Regions from separate parts of the Homo sapiens genome. Here region 2 is linked to region 1. Evidence: fine-mapped expression QTL. Tissue or cell type: naive CD8 T cells. Region 1 holds a variant in brackets; the other region holds the start of a gene. All regions are shown on one strand. Distances are between the middles of the regions. Region 1 has its middle 39 kb from the start of MEAK7. Region 2 holds the start of MEAK7 (MTOR associated protein MEAK7).

The links.
Region 2: it holds the start of MEAK7, and the variant in region 1 is fine-mapped to the expression of MEAK7 in naive CD8 T cells (Schmiedel 2018, PIP 0.95).

Annotation. Positions count from the first base shown.
Region 1 is chr16:84,537,526-84,549,182 of GRCh38, reverse strand. No RefSeq gene overlaps it. Among named protein-coding and RNA genes, the nearest start is that of MEAK7, 39 kb to the right of the region's middle. RefSeq lists enhancers at 1-291, 1,043-1,793, 1,794-2,545, 4,035-4,534, 4,535-5,036 and a silencer at 7,826-8,120. The variant G/T (reference allele first, on the strand shown) is at 6,502.
Region 2 is chr16:84,500,732-84,508,731 of GRCh38, reverse strand. MEAK7 (MTOR associated protein MEAK7) reads left to right here and starts at 4,073. Exons shown (of 8, transcript NM_020947.4): 1 at 4,073-4,131. It overlaps LOC124903736 (a long non-coding RNA gene), which reads right to left and starts at 3,930. Exons shown (of 2, transcript XR_007065149.1): 1 at 3,797-3,930; 2 at 1,053-1,386. RefSeq lists enhancers at 985-1,485, 3,613-3,732, 3,095-4,042, 4,163-4,663 and silencers at 1,758-1,994, 1,978-2,097, 4,283-4,332.

The DNA of each region.
Region 1 (11,657 bases):
TCCTGCGTCTCAGCCTGCCTCCCTGCTCGGTTGAGACTCTCGTCTGGCATGGGGTTGGCTGCCCCGGGGCATCTCTGGGCAGGGGACTGGGGATCCAAGGCCTCCGGGGCCTGGCAAGTACGGGGAGGAGGGCTGGAGGCTGGGCACCAAGGAGACAACAGGGAGAGGTGGGGACTGTGGCCAGGGGAGGGCGCGTGTCTTTCTAAAGAGGGCAGCTGCATGGTGACTGTGTGCTCCCAGATTTTCTTATTTTCTAAAGGAGTCCTAAATATAGATATTTATATACAAGTGATTGACATTTCATCAAAACAAGCACATTCTCATTACCCTGGCCAACCAACACGGAGGAGTCGGGGTGGTGGAAGCAGGCAGCCACTCGCCCCACAGGCTGGCTCCGTGTGAGAGGCGAGGCGTGGAGACAGCAGGTCTCCAGGTTGCTGGAGGCTTGAAAGCCTGAATAGATGCACCCGGCTGCATCTCCAGGTCCCCAGGCTCCTGCCAGGCCAGGCTCTTTGTGGATTCTAGAACATTCTCTTCAGCTGCCTGAGCCCCTGTGGCTGTTTCCATGGCCCTGCAGGGTCTGAGGGAAAAGTGAGCCCTGTGCTGCTTTTTTTTTTTTTTTTTTTGAGATCGAGTTTCACTCTTGTTGCTGCCCAGGCTGGAGTGCAATGGCACAATCTCGGCTCACCGCAACCTCCGCCTCCTGGGTTCAAGTGATTCTCCTGCCTCAGCCTCCTGAGTAGCTGGGATTACAGGCATTTGCCACCACGTCCAGCTAATTTTGTGTTTTTAGCAACGACAGGGTTTCTCCATGTTGGTCAGGCTGGTCTCAAACTCCTGACCTCAGGTGATCTGCCTGCCTCAGCCTCCCAAAGTGCTGGGATTACAGGCGTGAGCCACCGCGCCCAGCCGTGTGCTGCTGTCTTTAGAGCCTCTCGAGGCCCCGCTTTCGGCTGAGCACCCCCCCCCCTCCTATGTGACATGGAGATGCCCCAGGCCTGGGATTGTCCCCGTGGATTTGCGAGCATCTTGGGCAGATGCTGTGGGAGGGCCTGACCTCTCCTGCAGGGTGAATGAACTGTTTGTGTATGTGTGTGGGTTGGGCGGGTGGGTGCTGGGTTATTCCTGGGCTGACAAAGAGACCCCAACCCCAAAGCCCAGCCTCGGGAAGCAGGCTCAGCCCACCAGCTGTCAGGGAGGGATCCCGGGCTGGGGGAGTTGGAGGGGGCTGTCAGACAGAAGAAAATGTTGCCTCCCACAAGCCCCTGGGGGCCTTCAAACCCGGCCCCTGCTGAGATGTTTTTCTAAAAGGCTCTTCGTGGCAATAGCCATTAGGCCCAAAGGTCTGCAGTTGATACGACCTTAGGGTCTCAGGTTTCTTTGAGTCTCAGGTTTCTTTGACGTGTGGAAAGGCATTCCCTCTGGGCCTCCATGGAGCCTACAGCCTAAACAGGGGCCCCTGAGCCACAGCGCTGCTGCTGCAGAGGAGTTGGCTGGGTCTTCTGGGGGTAGGGGCAGGACAGAGGGAAGCTTCTGTTTTCACTTGGGACCTACGGAAAAAGCGCCGTAGTGGGAACTTTGGTGACATCATTCTCTCCTATGAGAGGCGGCGTGGTTAAACCATTTTACACAACAGGAGACTGAGGCTCAGAGAGACGAAGCTGGTTGCCTGAGGAGGTGGAGGAGCTGGGATTTGAACTCGTCAGTGAGCTGGACAATCTGGTGTTTCCCCTCTTCCCTCCTTGCTTTCCTCCCTTTCTTCCTTTTCTCTCTCCCTCTCCCCCTCCCCCTTTTCTCTTCCGTTACTCCCAGAACCGTCCACCGTGGCCTCTTTACATTCCAAGCTGGATTTTCTCCTGATCGCTCCAGTTCTCGAGGCGAAAAGCAAAGTCAGTGCTATGCAACAAGGCCGGCTGTGGTTGTGCCCCCAATGTCTCACTGGCTTCGTCGCCCACCACGGTCCTCATTTATTCTGTTGCAGGCCCTCGGGTCTCCTCGCTGGGCCTCCTGCTCACACAGCACCATCCTGCCTCAGGGGGACTCCTGCTGTGCCTGGAGCCCACTGACCTCTAAGTACCCATGCTGGTCCCTCATTCATGCAGCTCCCTGCTCAATGTCACCTTAGTGGAGTAGAATGTCACCTTGCCCTGACCCCATTCTAAAACAGCACCTGTGTCTTTTCGAGGTCCCCGAGCCCCACTTATGTTTCTTTGTAGCACTTATCACCACCTGATACCGTGTGTCTATTCGCTTGTTCATTGCTGTCTTTCCCCGCCAGAAGACAAAGTGTAATCTCCAGAGGGTAATCTCCAGTAGAGCAGAGACTTCATTTTGATCGTCGTTACTTGCTCAGCACCAAGAACAGTTCCAGGCATGGGGCAGGTGCTCAATAAAACTCGTTGAATGCATGACTCTGTATCTGTATCTATGTCTATATAGATAAATAGCTTAGCTTTATTTATTTATTTATTTATTTATTGAGACATGATTTTGCTCTGCTGCCCAGGCTGGAGTGCAGTGGTGCCATCACGGCTCACTGCAACCTCTGCCTCCCGGGTTCAAGCAATCCTCCTACCTCAGCCTCCTGAATAGCTGGGACTACAGGTGTGCACCACCACGCCCAGTTACGTTTTTCTATTTTTTAGAATAGAAATCTGGGATTACAGATTTGAACCACCACACCTGACCAGCATTGTATTTTTTTAATGCAGACAGTTCTGTAACTTTTTTTTTCATGTATTAGTCTGTTTTGGAGACCTTTATACTTCACTGCATATAGACTGGCTGTCCTCAACCACGGGCAATTTTGCCCCCAGGGAACACTCGGCAATGTCTGGATGCATTTCTGGGTGTCACACCAAGGAGGCTGGTGCTACTGGCATCTGGTAGGTAGAGCCAGGGATACCGCTAAACCTCCTGCAATGCACAGGACACTCCCCCCCCCAACCACAAAGGATGATCCAGCCCAAATGTCACTTGTACCCATGTTGAGAAACCCAGATATAGACATAGCATTCTTTCTTATGGTAACAGATTCCATAGTGTAAATGTACCATCATTTAACCACTCACTTACTGATGAGCATTTTAGGATATTTCCAATTCTTTACTGTTGCAAACAATGCTGCAAGGAACATCCCTGCATAAGCATCCATGCCTCTTCATGCACATGGGCAGGTATTTCCCGAGGACAGATAGCCAGCAGAGGGTCAAAAGAGGACGTGCACCATGTTTTATTTTTTATTTTTTTTGAGATGGAGTCTCGCTCTGTCCCAGGCTGGAGTGCAGTGGCGCGATCTCCGCTCACTGTAACCTCTGCCTTCTGGGTTCAAGTGATTCTCCTGTCTCAGCCTCTAGAGTAGCTGGGATTACAGGTGTCTGCCACCATGCCTGGCTAATTTTTGTATTTTTAGTAGACACGAGGTTTCACCATGTTGGCCAGGCTGGCAAACTCCTGACCTCAGGAGATTCACCCACCTCGGCCTCCCAAAGTGCTGGGATTCCAGGCGTGAGCCACCGCCCCTGGTCAGGACATGCACCTTTGACATGGAGACAGCCTCTGTCAAGTCGCCCTTCACACAGGCTGTAACCAAAGCACACTTCCAGCACAGCATGGCAGGGGTGCCAGCTTCCACCATCTGTGCTGTGGGTGATGGCTTTGAGACCTTCCCCAGGGGCCTCTCAACACAGTGCACTTAATCAGAGGGAGACTTGTCCTGAGCATGGAGCGAAGGCAATCCACTTTTGCTGTTTCTCTCTGTGCCAGCTCCTCCCCACCCTTCTCTGTGACACTTCAGATCCCAGCTCTGCCACTTATCGTCACCTCACCTCTCCGTGCCTTAGTTTCTCCATCTGTAAAATGGAGCTAACAATAGCAACTTCTGCTCAAGGAGAGTTGGGAGAATTACATAAGTTAATACTTGCAAAAACTTTCAGGCCGGCTAAGCAGTCCTCGAACATGAGCTATTATCCTGTGACATTCCTCCAGAGACAGCAGCGTGCATCATCTATAGTGCCGAAAATTGGAAGCAGGCAGGTGTCCCCCCTGTAACGGAAACACCAAGTGCTTTGCACGGCACCATGAAGCAGCGTGATATCCAGGCTTTAAAAATAATCCCAGGATTCAGGCTCAGGGGTCAGCCAGGAGGAGAGGACACCCGAGAATAGCCCCGATGGAATGCAAATCCTGAATTTACCCAGGAACTGGCCAAAGGGGCTTTTGAGCCTGAACGAGGTCAATTATCCTAAAGTGCCACCTTTCCGAGTTTTCTACTACTTCATAAGCACACGGAGTGCAGTTAGAAATTGAATTTCATTTTTGCACATTTAAACGAAATGATCCTGGGGACTCTGGGGCACAGAGGAAATGCCCAGATGGTGTGAAATGAGGGTGTGTGCAGCCCCTGATGCCCCCGGCCCAGGTTTCAGGCCTCCAGGCCCCTTCGTCTGCTTTATTTTCTTTGCAGGAGTCTCGGGCTGCAATGACATGGTTTGCTTCGGGTTCTCCGGCGCCGCCTGCCTCCTCTGTCAGATGCCGGTGTTCGGGGGTGGCTTCGTTGGCTTCCTTCCTTCTCTGTTCCAGACCTAAGAGGATGCCTGGGCCCTCGTGGGTGCTCGGCAAACAGGTGTTCCGTTCCCGTTGTAAAATATTGGCAGTGTGACAATGACTGCGGGGGAGTGTGGGGGCAATTCCGAACTGTGTGTAGATCAGGCTTCATGACATAAAAAGTGGGGAAAGTTGAGATGAGCTGTACACAGATTTCTCCAAAGGTCAAACTGGCACCTCCATGAGTTACGTGTACAGAAGTAAAAAGAATCTTTAATAAATCCAGAAAGGGAAGGTAGGGGACGGCCGAGGCCAGGGCACCAGGTAAGCAGGAAGGTGGCGTGAACGCTGTTTGTAATGAATGTTCCCCTTGGGGACACCTGGCAGGGAGGACCCTGTGCACACATCCCAGAGTGCTCTGGGAACCCCTAGGAATCCATTATAAGGACAAGACAGCTATTTAATTTCCCATGAGTCATATTTCTTTTCCAGTGTTTTTATAAGAGTTAATGTCAGAGGCTAGGCCAGGCGCAGTGGCTCGCGCTTGTAATCCCACTCTGGGAGGCTGGAGCGGGGGATCACTTGAGCCCAGAAGTGTGATATCAGCCTGGAAAACATGGCAAAACCCTGTCTCTATGAAAGAAATTTTTTTTAATTAGCTGGGCGTGGTGGCATGCCTGTAGTCCCAGCTACTCAAGAGGCTAAGGTGGGAGGATCACCTGGGCTCAGGGGTTCGAGGCTGCAGTGAACTATGATGGTGCCACTGCACTCCAGCCTGGGTGACAGAGCGAGACCCTGACTCGTAAAACAAACCAGAGAGTTAAAGTCAGAAGGCTTGTCCACGGTTCCTTAGGTTTTGTTCCAAAACGCACATCTGGGCTGTGGTCACAGAGTTGCTTATTTCAACCCTGGGATGACCTAGTGGCCCCTTTACCAAAACCACCTTTAGTGACCTCTCATTGGTAGCCTGAAATCAGCCACAATGGAAGTGTTTACACCAGGGAAATTGGAAATCAGTAAAGGCCTTCCTTCCAAGCCATTGTTAAACAGTTACCAGCACACCACTGCATGCCCACAGCTGTTCTAAGAACTCTACATAATTCACTCATTTAATCCTTTCGGCCACCCTGTGATATGTGGTATTATTATTATTCCCATTCTACAGATGGGAAAACTGAGGACCAAGAAGTTTAAGTAACTTGCCCAAAGTCACACAACTGTAGAGGATGCAGGCTTTAAACCTAGACATTCTGGATCCACTGTCTGTGTTGTTGACTGCTGAACTCTATAGCTCACTGAAACCCTGACTTCGTGGACATTATTGCTTAGAGTTATGCTGAGAAAGGCAGAAAAAAAAATCACACAGTAGGTTGACTTAAAAAAATATGGGCTGGGTGCAGTGGCTCACGACTGCAATCCCTGCACTTTTGGAGGCTGAGGCAAGAGGATCACTTGAGCCCGGGAGTTTGAGACAAGCCTGGGCAACATAATGAGACCCCTATCACTGTAAAAAAAAATTTAAAGGCTGGGCGCGGTGGCTCACGCCTGTAATCCCAGCACTTTGGGAGGCCAAGGCGGGCAGATCACCTGAGGTCAGGAGCAGAAGTTGGAGACCAGCCTGGCCGACATGGCAAAGCCCTGTCTCTACTAAAAATACAAAATTAGCTGGGCATGGTGGTGCATGCCTGTAGTCCCAGCTACTCGGGAAGCTGAGGCAGGAGAATCGCCTGAACCCGGGAGGAGGAGATTGCAGTGAGCCAAGATTGCACCATTGCATTCCAGCCTGGGCAACAAAAGCAAAACTCTGTCTCAAAAAAAAAAAAAAAAAAAGATTAAAAATTAGCTGGGCATAGTGGTGCAGGCCTGGAGTCCCAGCTACTCAGGAGGCTGAGGTGGGAGGATGGCTTGAGCCTGGGAAGTTGAGGCTACAGCCCCCACCCTCATCCCGAGCTGACC[G/T]CTGCCTGGACCTAACACCTGAGCTTGGCTTTGCTGGTTTGTGTTAATGTTTTACACACAGGGTGGACTTTTTGTCTGGCTGCTTTCCCTCCCCGTCGTGTCTGAACTCCATACAAATTTAGGGTTTAGTTGTAAATCATTCTTTCTCAACTTTTGCACAGTTTTTCATGGTTGGTTGTATATGTTTTGGGGAGACAGAAGACATCAACCAATACATGATTTTCACAAATTTACACCCCTATTTATTCACCCATTCCACTGTGATGAGTATTGGGGTGGTTTCTTATTTGAAGCTATTATGAAGAGAGCTGCTATGAACATTCTAGGACATTCTAGGCTTTTGGTGTGTACATTTCTATTGCGTATATCCTAGGAGTGGACTTGCTGGGTCATAGGAATACAAGCGTCCAGGGAAAGATGGAGTTTTATCTGAAATCTCCTGACTTTACAGTGACAGAGGCTAATGCATATATTTTTTTAAACAACAAAGACTCAGCCAAGCAAAACATTCTTCAGGCAAGTCAGACCTGCTAGTGGCCAATTTACAGCCTTTAGTCTAGATTAGACTTCGCTTTCTCTACTAGCCCAAGATCTGTTTCATTGTTTCATTTTGTTTTTTACATTTTTATAACTGTTTTCATTATAAAAGAACTATAACTGCATTATGAAAAATTCAGAAAATGGAGTAAAGAAAATAAATTCACCAAGAGTTCAGCCCCCTAAAGCAAACACAGTCATAGCTTCGTATATCTTGTTCTAGTGCTTTTTTCCTGTGCATATGTATTTTAAAATAAATTTGCAATATTGCTTCATATAAATTATATAAACTGCCATTTGATGTGATCATTTTTGCATTTGCCTGTTATTACACAGTCGTCATATTCCACTACGGTCGGTTTTCGATTCACTTAATTTTCTGAGTAGAGAAAACAATTCCTGTCTTTCTATTTTAGACTTATTAAATCTATAAATAAAAGGCTGCTGGAAAGAGGGCGTTTTCTGCTATAATAATAAGGCTTTATTCAAGGCATAAGGAATGTGGTTTTAAGAGGATGAAGCTGGACACAGTGGCTCATGCCTGTAATCCCAGCACTTTGGGAGGCCGAGGCAGGCAGATCACTTGAGGTCAGGAGTTCAAGATCAGCCTGGCCAACATGGCAAAAGCCCATCTTACAAAAATTACAAAAATTAGCCAGGTGTGGTGGTGTGCGCCTGTGGTCCCAGCTACTCAGGAGGCTGAGGTGGGAGAATCGCTTGAGCCCAGGAGGCGGAGGTTGCAGCGAGCTGAGATCACACCACTGCACTCCAGCCTCGGCAACGATGAGACCCTGTCTAAAAAAAAAAAAAAAGGATGGAGCCTGCAGCCACACTACTTGGATTCAGAATCCTAACTCTACTCAATCCCCACTGAGTGACCACTCCAGGCCTCGGTTTGCTTCATCTTGAAAATGGAGATGATAAACAGCTCCTGACTCACAGCTTGTCATGAGGATTAAATGAGGTGATACCTGTAATGTGCTCAGAACAGGGGTTGGAATGTTACAAACATATAGCAAGGGTTGGCTATTGATTACTAGGTACAATGGTCACTATTTTGTTCATCATAGAACGAAAGCCCAGCAAGAACCCCTGTGAACATTTGTGGGAATATTCTGCTGGGCTTGTATTAGTGCCTACGTAATATGCACATGCAGACACCAAATGTGCAGATTCACACATGTATACTGTTTTGTTATCTGTTTCTTGGCGACTCTAAATTTTTTCTTTTCTTTTCTTTTTTTTTGAGATGGAGTCTTGCTGTGTCACCCAGGCTGGTGTGCAGTAGAGCAATTTCAGCTCACTGCAACCTCCGGCTCCTGGGTTCAAGTGATTCTCCTGCCTCAGCCTCCCAAGTAGCTGGGACTACACCTCAGCCTCCCAAGTAGCTGGGTGCATGCCATGATGCCTGGCTAATTTTTGTATTTTTAGTAGAGACAGGGTTTCGCCTTGTTGGCCAAGCTAGTCTCGAACTCCTGACCTCAGGTTATCTAGCCGCCTCAGCCTGCCAAAGTGCTAGGATTACAGGCGTGAGCCACCATGCCCGGCCTAAATTTTCTTTCTGTGTCATTGTTGGGAGACAGTTCTCCATGGGTCTCTCAGGTTTCTACATGTCTTGCAAGTAGAAGAACTATCTTTACAAGGATGTTTATATAGCAAACAACTTTGTTAGACAGAGACAGTGTGTCCCCTCAGATCAAAGGGCAAATTTGTTTTCTGTCCAATATAGATAGATGTTTGCCCCCAGGGCAAGGATCAGGATTTCTTATAAGAAATTTGGGCTCCCTGAGCTCAGGGATCCTCAGCTGTGAGAAATGTGCTGTGTGCGCAACACCCACCCCTTCCGGGCCCCTTTGCATGGCCCCTGTGGGACTTGGGGACAAGGGAAACCGATGCAAACATAAAGCTCATGCTACTTGCTGTGCTGCGAGTAATAAAGTCACTTGTCTCTGACCCAGGAGGCTCGTGTCTTCTGCCAGCAACCATGGCACTGCAGCAGGCTCACCTGGGGGCTTTCACAGAGGGTCAAATCCCAGCTCATCCATGGGCCTTGAGAATCATGAAACAGTCTTCCCCAGCATCACTTCCAGGTTCTACCAGAGTCCCCTCATTTGGCCCCTCTATCATTCTTTGGGTTAATCTTCCATCTTTGGAAACGTAGCTTGCTTTCCATTTTGTCACTGTTTTAAACAATGCTGTAGTGTGCACTTGTAGCTGAGCTTCGTTCTCATGTGACTACCCCGATACTGTAAATCAGAGATTCTGAGGAGTGTTGGCAGGACCCCTGATGCCAGCAAGTTCAGCCTCTTGATGCCCATCGCACATTGAGGCCTAGTGGGTCCTGAGCCACTGGGAGTTCCCCTCACCCCTCATTCTCCACTGGCCTCTCTCCCTGGGCCTGTAGAATCTTCCCAGCCTCCCTCATCCTCCCGAGTCTCCCTGGGGGGCATTTAACACACTGGACTCTAATTGAGGGGTCCTTTCTCTCCAGATCCTGAGCTCTTTGAGGGCAGGGACTTCCTCATCCTTGTGTCCCCAGGACCTGGCACATTGGGTGCTCATCCAATGTTAACAGAACCTAAACAGAAACCATCAACAGATTCAAAAAGGACATCCAGGCACCGTACGTTAGGGCGTCGAGCCTACTGGTTCACTCTCGTACCTCTGTACTCCAGGAGGTATTCTGAGTGTCGCAGAATCACATCTACTGTCAGGGAGCTGCAGTCAAAGGAAACCAAGGACTGGAAGGAAGAGTTGCACTGAGGAGGGGCAGAGTCAGCTCCTTAACCTCCCTAAGGCTTCTCACAGTGAGCCCTCTAGAAAGGTTTATTTATTTATCTTTTACTTTTACTTTTTGATTTGTATTATTTATTTATTTATTTATTTGAGATGGAGTCTAGCTTTGTTGCCTAGGTTGGAGTGCAGTGGCGTGATGTCGGCTCACTGCAATCTCCACCTCCCAGGTTCAAGTGATTTTCCTGCCTCAGCCTCATGAGTAGCTGGGATTACAGGCATGTGCCACCACACCCGGCTAATTTTTGTATTTTTAGTAGAGATGGGGTTTCATCATGTTAGCCATGCTGGTCTTGAACTCCTGACCTCAGGTGATCCGCCTGCCTTGGCCTCCCAAAGTGCTGGGATTACAGATATGAGCCACCACGCCCGGCCTTATTTTTATTTTTTAAGCCCCCATTCTGAGAAGCAACTTTTATTTTTTATTGAGATACAGTATATACAGAGAAGTGCACACGTCTGAAGTGTACAGCTCCAAGAACACTCACACACTAAGCACAACCATGCAATGGCATTCAGGTCAATAACACACTAGTGTCAGCCCCCAAGCCCCACTTCATGCCCCCTATTGAGTCACCCTCAACAGTAAGCGTGACTCGAACTTCCAACAGCACAGAACCATATGCTGTGTACGCTGTTGTGTCTGGCTTCTTTCATTCCGTATTGTTTGTGAGAGTCGGCCATATTGTGTGTAGTTTGAAGCCATTCTTCTTTCTGTGTGGTTTTCCATCACTTGGACAGACCACATTTATTTAGCCATTCTACTATTGATGGGCATTTGGGTGGTTTCCAATGTGGGGCTATTGTGAACAGTGTTGCAAAGAACATTCTAGTTCAACTCCTTATCCACACACATCCCCCTTCTGGGTGTATACACAGTGAAAATGCTGGGTTATGGTGCAGATCTATGGTCTGCTTTAGTGGATGCTCTGAAATTCTTAGAAAAATATTTATTTAATGAATAACTTTCCTGAGTCAAAGAATCAGGGTGATGGATAAGTTGAAATTATAGCTACAGTCAGGGCCAGTCTCGTGGGTAATTATCTCCCAGGGCAGCAGCCAAGGGCCCTGCACTCAGAAGGGCCTGTGCTTGGGATTTAATTCTTTGAAATTCCTAATAATTTTACTGATGGGACAACAGAGCATGTCCCGATTACCCTCCGCATCCCCCGGTGGCATCGGCAGAAGGCCTGGCTGACATTTATGGCTGAGAGGTTGTCAGTCCCCTGGGGCTGGCGTGAAGGAGCCATGGGGGACATAGCCCTGAAGGGGCCAAGGGGTCTCCGACAGCTGGGCAGCCTAAGGCTGGGGAGTGGCCATTTCGGAGCGTGAAAAGCTTGTGAAATGATCTTGAGGCCCCATTCATAATGCATGAGAGGTCGGGTGGGGGAGCCTCTCTGGACACAGGGCCTTTGTTCCTGCCAGGACTATGGGAGCACTTTCTTCATAATCGTCTCAGAGAGGAAGGAAGCGAAGAAGATTTATCTCCCAGAGTCGAATCCGCTTCCTTGGGAGAGGCGGCTATCTGTCCCTCACAGAACTGAGTGCCCCCAAGAGAATTCTTTGCAATGAGTTACAAAGAGCCAGACTTTGAAGGGTCAAAGATATATAGCTTGCTGACACAGCCTTAGATAATATACATTGTGTGCATGGAGAGAGAGAGAGAAGCTTCTCCCCACACCAGCCTTTTTCACAGCTGTCTATATTGTGCGCCCTCCCAGCCTCCTTGTGAAGGAGTTTTGTTTGTTTGCTTTGCTTTGTTTTTAAACAGGAGAAAGAAAATGACAATAGAGGATAGGATTTTCTCTAAACCCCCAGCACAAAAG
Region 2 (8,000 bases), 39 kb after region 1:
AATATGTGGTCCTTTGTGTCTGGCTGCTTTCACGTAACCACAGTTTTTTTTTTTTTTTTTTTTTGAGGCAAAGTCTTACTCTGTCACCCAGGCTGTAGTGCAGTGCGCGATCTTGGCTCACTGCAACCTCTGCCTCCTGGATTCAAGCAATTCTCACGTCTCAGCCTCTTGAGTAGCTAAAATTACAGGCGCCCACCACCATGCCCGACTAATTTTTGTATTTTTAGTAGAGACAGGGTTTCACCATGTTGGCCAGGCTGGTCTGAAACTCCTGAGCTCAGGTGATCCACCGAGGTAGGTGATCCACCTACCTCGGCCTCCCAAAGTGCTGCGATTACAGGCATGAGCCACTGCGCCTGGCCATAACATCAGATTTTCAAGGATTATCCACGTTGTAATGTGTCAGTGGTTCATTCCTTTTTTTTAAATTGCCAAATATTATTCCATTGTGTGGATATACCATATCTTGTCTATCCATTCTTCAGATGGGCTTTTATCTTTTTTCCACTTTAGGCTATCGTGAACAGTGCTGCTTGAACATCCAGTACTAGTGTGTGTTTGAATACAGGTTTTCAGCTTTGTGGTGTATCTAGGCGTGGGACTGCTGGTCCTATGGTAACTCTGTTTAACTTTTTGAGGACTGATTTCCCCCATGGCTGAACCATTTCACCAGCAGTGCGGGAGGAGAGAACTACCTCCTCTCCAACACTCGCTATTTAAAAAACTTTAGCCCTCTTAGGCCGGGCATGGTGGCTCATGTCTGTAATCCCAGCACTTTGGGAGGTCAAGGTGTGAGGATCGCTTGAGCCCAGGAGTTCGAGACCAGCCTGGGCAACATCGCGAGGCCCCATCTCTACAAAAAATAAAAATAGCCTGGTGTGGTGGGGTACGCCGGTGGTCCCAGCTACTTACGAGGCTGAGGTGGGAGGATGGCTTGAGCCTGGGAGGTCGAGGCTGCAGTGAGCTGAGCCGTGATTGCATCACTGCACTCCAGACTGGGTGATAGAGCAAGATCCTGTCTCAAAAACAAAACAAAAACGTTAGCTATCCTAGTGGGTGAGCCGTACATTTATTTTTGATTTTCAATTTTGAATTGTTGCATGTGGTCCGGCAAGCACTGCACAATAGAATAACTGCCTGCCACATGTGGCCATTCAAACTGAAAATGAGAATAAATTCAATAAAATGAACTCGACTTCCTCTACTGCACAAGTCAGCCGTGGCTTCCGGCTCCATGCTGGCGGCACAGATGGATCGTTGCCCGCCTCACCGAGTGCTGCTGGAGGCTGCTGGTGGTGCCTCCTCAGGGCACGGCTGCTCCTGCGTTTGCTGCTTGGTGGTGGCCTCCTAACAGCCTGGCCCAGAAGGTGGTCCATGCAGCCCAAACTTGGGTTCCAGAGATGGGGAGTCGGGGGCAAGGAGCACATGGGGAAGAGAGAGTGGATGCTCAGCCACAATGGGGGCCCGGTGGTGGCTCAGCCTTTCTGTGGAGGTGTCAAAGCTGGACATGGAAAATTGGGCAGGGATGTCGCTAGCAGAGGCACCGCTGTGGATGGCAGGACCAGCCTGGTCAGGACCTCTGGGAGCCAAGGAGAGTTCAGTGCCCAAAGTCAGCATAAAAAACAGAAGCTGGTGCCCCGGGGGCAGTTGGACAGCCCATGGACATCCCCGGGAGCACCAGCTTGTTGAAATAGCATGATGTATATTTTTAAAAGAGTCTCACTTTATATGCAAAATGTCAAGCAATATAAATCTCTTATTTAAAAAAATTGAGAATACCAGGGGCGGTGGCTCATGCCTGTAATCCCAGCATTTTGGGAGGCCGAGGTGGGTGGATTACCTAAGGTCAGGAGTTCGAGACCAGCCTGGCCAACGTGGTGAAACCCCGTCTCTACTAAAAATATAAAAATTAACTGGGTGTGGTGGCCTATGCCTGTAATCCCAGCTACTCGGGAGGCTGAGGCAGGAGAATTGCTTGAACCTGGGAGGTGGAGGCTGCAGTGAGCCGAGATTGCGCCATTGCACTCCAGCCTGGGCAACAAGAGTGAAACTCCATCAAAAACAGAAACTTTCCAACCAGGCAGGTGGGCAGATTGGAGTGTAGGCTGTTTCTGGAGGGTATGGCCACGAGGTGGCGCCACTTCGGTAGCTCTCAAACGGCGCCGCTCCGCATTTGCTTCTGTGGTTTTCTGGGGGATTTTGTTTCACCGTTTTAATAACAAGATCTCACTTTCCTGCCCAGGCTGGAGTGCAGTGGTGCAATCACGGCTCACTGCAGTCTCGCCCTCTGAGGCTCAAGCGATCCTCCTGCCTCGGCTCCCTGAGTAGCTGGGACTACGGGTGTGCCATACCACGCCCGGCCAAGCTTTTCATTTTTTGTAGAGATGGAGTCTCACTATGTTGCCCAGGCTGACACATCGGCTCCGGTTTGCTCCTGCGGACCCCCCAGTACCTGCACCTGAGAGGCCACCATTGCTGTCCACCCTTGGTGTGCCTCAGCCTACAAAAAACTGTTGCTATGTCAAAAATGCCACTACCTCGGATGGCACTGAAAAAGACACACCTGGTTGATGTGTGCAGGAAGTACAGGGGTGTGAAGGCTGGAAACAGGGTCTAGTCCTTCATGTCTAAAGGCCCGTGTGTCTTGGGCATCAGGAGCCCTGGCTGCAGGTGACAGGCACCTACTCTAAGAAGCCGAGGTGAAGAGCTGGGGCTACTCGTGTCATTGGCATCCACAGCTGGGGGTACCCTGGCTGTAGATGCGTTAGTTTGTGGAGCTGCTTCTCCTGGGACATTGGCCTTGGATCTCAGAGCAATGTCTTGGTGAGGGGCCCTACCTTGTGCACTGTCACCAGCCAGGCCTGCTGCCCTCAGGCAGAAAGCCTTCTATTTTTGTTCCAGCTTAAAGAATAAGAGGTGACCAGCCGGGTGCAGTGGCTAACCCCTACAATTCTAGCACTGTGGGAGGCCGAGGCAGGCAGATCACCTGAGGTCAGGAGTTCGAGACCAACTCAAGCGGACGTTGGCGGGCGAAGTCACGGTTTTCCAGGCTGGAAAACCAGCAGGCCGTGCAGGGGAGAGAACTGGTACCATGGACATGCGGGAGCTGAATCTGCAGGAAGGTGGACCCCAGGGAGGATGCGTGGGGTGGAGAGAGTAGGGAGAAGTCGAGAAACTCCAGGGCAGAAGCCAGAAGGGCCCAGGGAAGACCACCAGGGACAGCGAGCGAGCCAGGGCCAGGAATGGGCGCCGGGGTGCCCAAGAGAGAGGTCTGATGAGAGCACGATCACCAAGCGCCAAATGCTGCCTGCGAGGACCCAAAGCGCACCTCGGATGTAGTGAGCAGGCCCCCGGGACCAGGTTTCGGTGGGTTTGAGAAGGAACGAGCTGAAGAAGTGGGGTGACAGGTTCAGACGTCTTGGAGTGAACGGGAACCGGCTGAAGAGGCGCACGTGGGGTGGAGGGAGTCTGTTTAGCCAGGCTGTGGAGCTGGCGCCTGATGGCTGCCGGGAAGGACCTGGTGCCAGGGAAGAGCGAGGCAGGGGCAGCTGGCAGAGGGAGGCCCGAGGGGAGGCGGACCCGAGGCTCTAGGCCAGGACCAGCAGGCCGGGGAGTCAGGGGAGAGTTGCCTGGGGCCCAGGAGGCTGCACTGCAGAGGCCTCTGCATGGGCTCCACATGGGCCACTCTCCTCCCCCGGGTGTCTTCACCCCCAAGCTCAGCCTCTCCCCCAGGATCTCCCACACCCTGGCTACTCCGCTCCAGCGCCCAGCCCAGACACCCCTTCTCCCCAGGTACCACTGCTGGCCTGGCCTGGCCTGAGTCATTGGCCGCCCTCTCCAGGCGCCTCCTTGGTACGCACGCAGCCGGGCCGGATTCCCGGGCCTGCAGCCGCTCCTCCCGCAGACCGCGGCCCCGCCCCGAGCCGCACCCACCGGGTTCGGCTCACTCCCTGTGAGGCGCGTCACCATTGGCTGACTCCTCTCTTGGGTTCCGCCCCACACCTCCGCTTCCACGATTGGACCAAATGACTGCCCCTCAGCAATGTTGCCTGGCAACAGGGAAGGGGCGGCTCTCGAGAGGAGCCCGTGGGCTGCTGGACCGGACCGGACAGCACCAGGAAGCCCGGCAGGGTAGGTACCTGGGCTGAGGTTCGCAGTGAGCTGACCCAGAGGCGCAGGCCCAGCTGAGTCGGGGGACTGGAGCAGACGGGTCCAGAGTAGGCCTGGGCCCTGCCCCTCCCTGGCCTCCCACGCCTCTTCAGGCCCTCGGGTCGGGGGAGGGAGAGGTGAAGGCTGCGGGGAGGTGAGGGGTGGGGACAGCGGGGCGGGATGGAGGGAGGGTCTCCTGGGGGGGATCAGAATCATCCTGCACCTCCCGCTGTTTATGTGGTCAAGGTAAGAGGGTGGCGAGGTGCTTCCCCCAGGGCCAAGGCCAGCCGTGTTGAAGGGGGATTCAGAGCCTGTGTAGACGCGGAAAGGGAGGGGTGCCTCCACGGAGGAGGCGAGTCTGGGGTAGACACTGAAGTGTGTGTGGAGGGGGTTTTCCTTCTTGTATTCTGACCACACCCATCTGGGCTTTTCCAGGACAGTGAGCTGATAACTGTTCCCAGGCCATGTAGGTGGCCAGCACAGGACAGGTCACCTTCTGGCCCACAGGAACTTCTTGCCCAGGCTCAAGCTGCCCCTTCGCACAAGGGCCTCTGGGCTCTGAGACACAGACAGGACTTCGAAGCCTGTCCAGATGAGGCAGTTGGAATCTCCCCAGCTTGTGGGGGTACGGAGGGACCCTTGTGTGGCTCTAGGGATGCGGGGCCCTTGGAGTAGAGAGTTGGAGCTTGGCAGCCAGGGTGGGAAGCAGCCATGTAACAGCCTGTTGGAGAAGCTCTGAGCAGGAGGTGACTAAGCCATTCCTAGGATACTAGTGGGAACCTTGGGGGCCATCCTGCAGACAATCGGTCCCTGTCCACCCCTCCATCACGGAGGCAGAGCAACCTTCCGTTTCTTCCAAGCAGGGCAGTTTCTCTTGTTCTAAGACAAGATCCCAAGGAGCCATTCTCTGTTGTCTTGGGCCCATTATTCTGTCTCTGACCTCCAGTAAGCAGATCAAATGCCCTGGGTTACCTTATTTAATCTTCTCAACCTTATGTTAAAGAAATTAATTAATGATGCTTATTAAAAGCACATTAATTATTGAAGACCATTGCAATGGGTATAGGGACCACAGCAATGGGATTTTGTAGTAAAGGAGAGAGATTGGGCTCAACTCTGATTATAGCATGGGCAAGTGGGAAGCCAGGAAGCAGGGTGGGGATCAGTGGATGGAAGATGACTGAGGAAACATCAGGGCGCTAGGGTGGATTCTGGGTAAGCTTACCTAGCAGTTTGTTACTGAAGGCAGGCCAGGGTGATCAGACATCACCTAGGGCAAGCTCGTCCAACCCGTGGGCCATATGTGGCCTAAGGCGGCTTTGAATGACATCCAACACAAATTCATAAGCTTTCTTAAAACATGAGATTTTTTTTTTACCATATATGTAGATATATGCACTTATCAGTTATTGTTAGTGGGTTTTATGTGTGGCCCAAGACAGTTCTTCCAGTGTGGCCCAGGGAAACTGAAAGATTGGATATCCCTAACCTAAGCATTAAACCTGGTTAGATAGCAAGTGAACAGATAATGGTGATCAAATATCAAGGATGAGTGGTTTTGTGGGTTTTTTTGTTTGTTTGTTTTTTGTTTTGCTAAAACCAGATTTTACAAAGAGGTACACAGATGGGCCCAGGAGCCTGACTAAAGTCTGGTCAAGCAAAACATCTTGGTCACTTATTATGGGCTGCTGGAACTTTTGTTTGTGTTTTTATGAGACAGAGTCTTGCTCTGTCACCCAGGCTGGAGTGCACTGTTGTGATCTTGGCTCACTGCGACCTCTGCCTCCTGGTTCAAGCGATCTTCCCACCTCAGCCTCCTGAATAGCTGGAACTATAGTCACACGCCACCACACCCGGCTGAGGTTTGTATTTTTGGCAGAGACGAAGTCTCACTATGTTGCCCAGGCTGGTCTCAAACTCCTGGCCTCAAATGATCCTCCCAAAGTTCTGGGATTATAGGCTTGATGATGGAAAGCTTTCAGTCCCTGGCAAGTTTTCTCGGTGTCATGGGACTTTCACAGTACACCTGGGTACATGGGGTGGCCTCTTCTCTGCAAAGCTGTGCATAACACAACCCTACATTGGCCTCGAGACTTCTGTGGGTTCCCTTGTATCAAGTTCCGCTTCCATTTTGTTCCGCTGCCCTACATCCTCAGAAGCCAGGTTTTCTCACCTTCAGCCCTACCGATGTCTGGGACGGACACTTCCTCGTCGTAAGGCCATCCTGTGCACTGTAGGATTTTTAGCAGTATCCCTGGCCTCTGCCTGCTAGATGCCAACGGCACTCCCCTCCCCCAGTTGTGGCAACCACACACTTTTCCAGTCATTGCCAAATGCCCCTGGGGGACGAAACTGCTCCAGTCGAGCTCCACTGGTACAAGCAACCTTGATGTGCGCTGTCAGCACCAGCACCAGCGTGCATTGTCTTTTTTTTTTTTGAGACCGAGTTTCACTCTTGTTGCCCAGGCTGGAGTGCAATGGCATGATCTTGGCTCATTGCAACCTCCGCCCCCTGGGTTCAAGCAATTCTCCTGCCTCAGCCTCTCAAGTAGCTGGGATTACAGGCATGCACCACCACACCCGGTTAATTTTGTATTTTTAGTAGAGACAGGGTTTCTCCATGTTGGTCCAGCTAGTCTCGAACTCCCGACCTCAGGAGATCCACCCGCCTCGGCCTCCCAAAGTGCTGGGATTACAGGCGTGAGCCACCACACCATTGCCATTTCTTTATCTTGCCTGGCACGGGGCTCTCAAAGGAGACGGGCTGTCCTTGAGCCGTTCTGAGACGTGTCCCTTCACCAGCACTCTGCAGGTACTAAGAATGGCAGTGCTGTGGACAGCGCTGTGTTCTTAGGGGCTGCCCACCTTCCCACCTCACTGGCACCAGCCCTGGGGTTCCTACTGGGGCCTCCCATGCAACCTCCTCTCTCCTGCTTGAAAAAGTGGCGTTGCCAGCCTGGCTCTGCGTCCAAGCCTTTCCTGTCATCTCCTGGGCCTGCCCTGGTCTGCGCCGCTTCTGTGCATTTCTGGGTTCCTGTCCTGCCTGTTGGCACTTGCCCAGCCCTGCACCTTTCTCCCGGCTGTCTGGGGTTGGTGAGGGCTGGCCAGGCTGCACCCTGCTGCTGTTCTCCGACCACAGTGGGGGAGCCTGTTTCTGGCAGAAAGTGGGAGTTGGGGTGGGATGGAAGTGAGGGGCTGGGTGGAGTCAGGCCTGGGCCCCCTTCTGCTGCAGCCCTCTGCTGCCCTCCCCCACGTGCCCTGAGTTCCACCCTTGCCTCGCTGATCCCAACGCTCTTGCTTATGCCCCGTGCGTGCTGTTCCCACTTCCTGGTGAATCACCTGTGAGTCTCTGAAGACTCAGCTGGAATGTGACCTTTGGGACCTTTTCCACTCTTCACTCTTCTTGTTACACCCCCAGGCCACACCCATCCCCATGCCCTTGTCTCTGTTTCCCCTCTTTTTTTTTTTTTTTTTTTTCTTTTTTTTTTTGAGACGAGTCTAACTCTGTTGCCCAGGCTGGAGTGTAGTGGCGTGGTCTCGGCTCACTGCGACTTCCGCTGTCCGTGTTCAACCAATTCTTCTGCCTCAGCCTCCCAAGTAGCTGGGATTACAGGTGCACAGCACCATGCCTGGCTAATTTTTTTGTATTTTTAGTAGAGATGGGGTTTCATGTCGTTGGCCAACCTAGTTTCGAACTCCTGACCTCAGGAGATGGTGTGGCCCACCTTGCAGGCTCTTCGAGTTGATGCAGAGGGTGGGTCTGCTTTGTTTTGGCTGCTTGGGCTGTGTCCCTGCAGCACCCAGACTCAGCCGGTGCAGCCCCTCTGTTTCAGAGCTGGGGACAGCCGCCT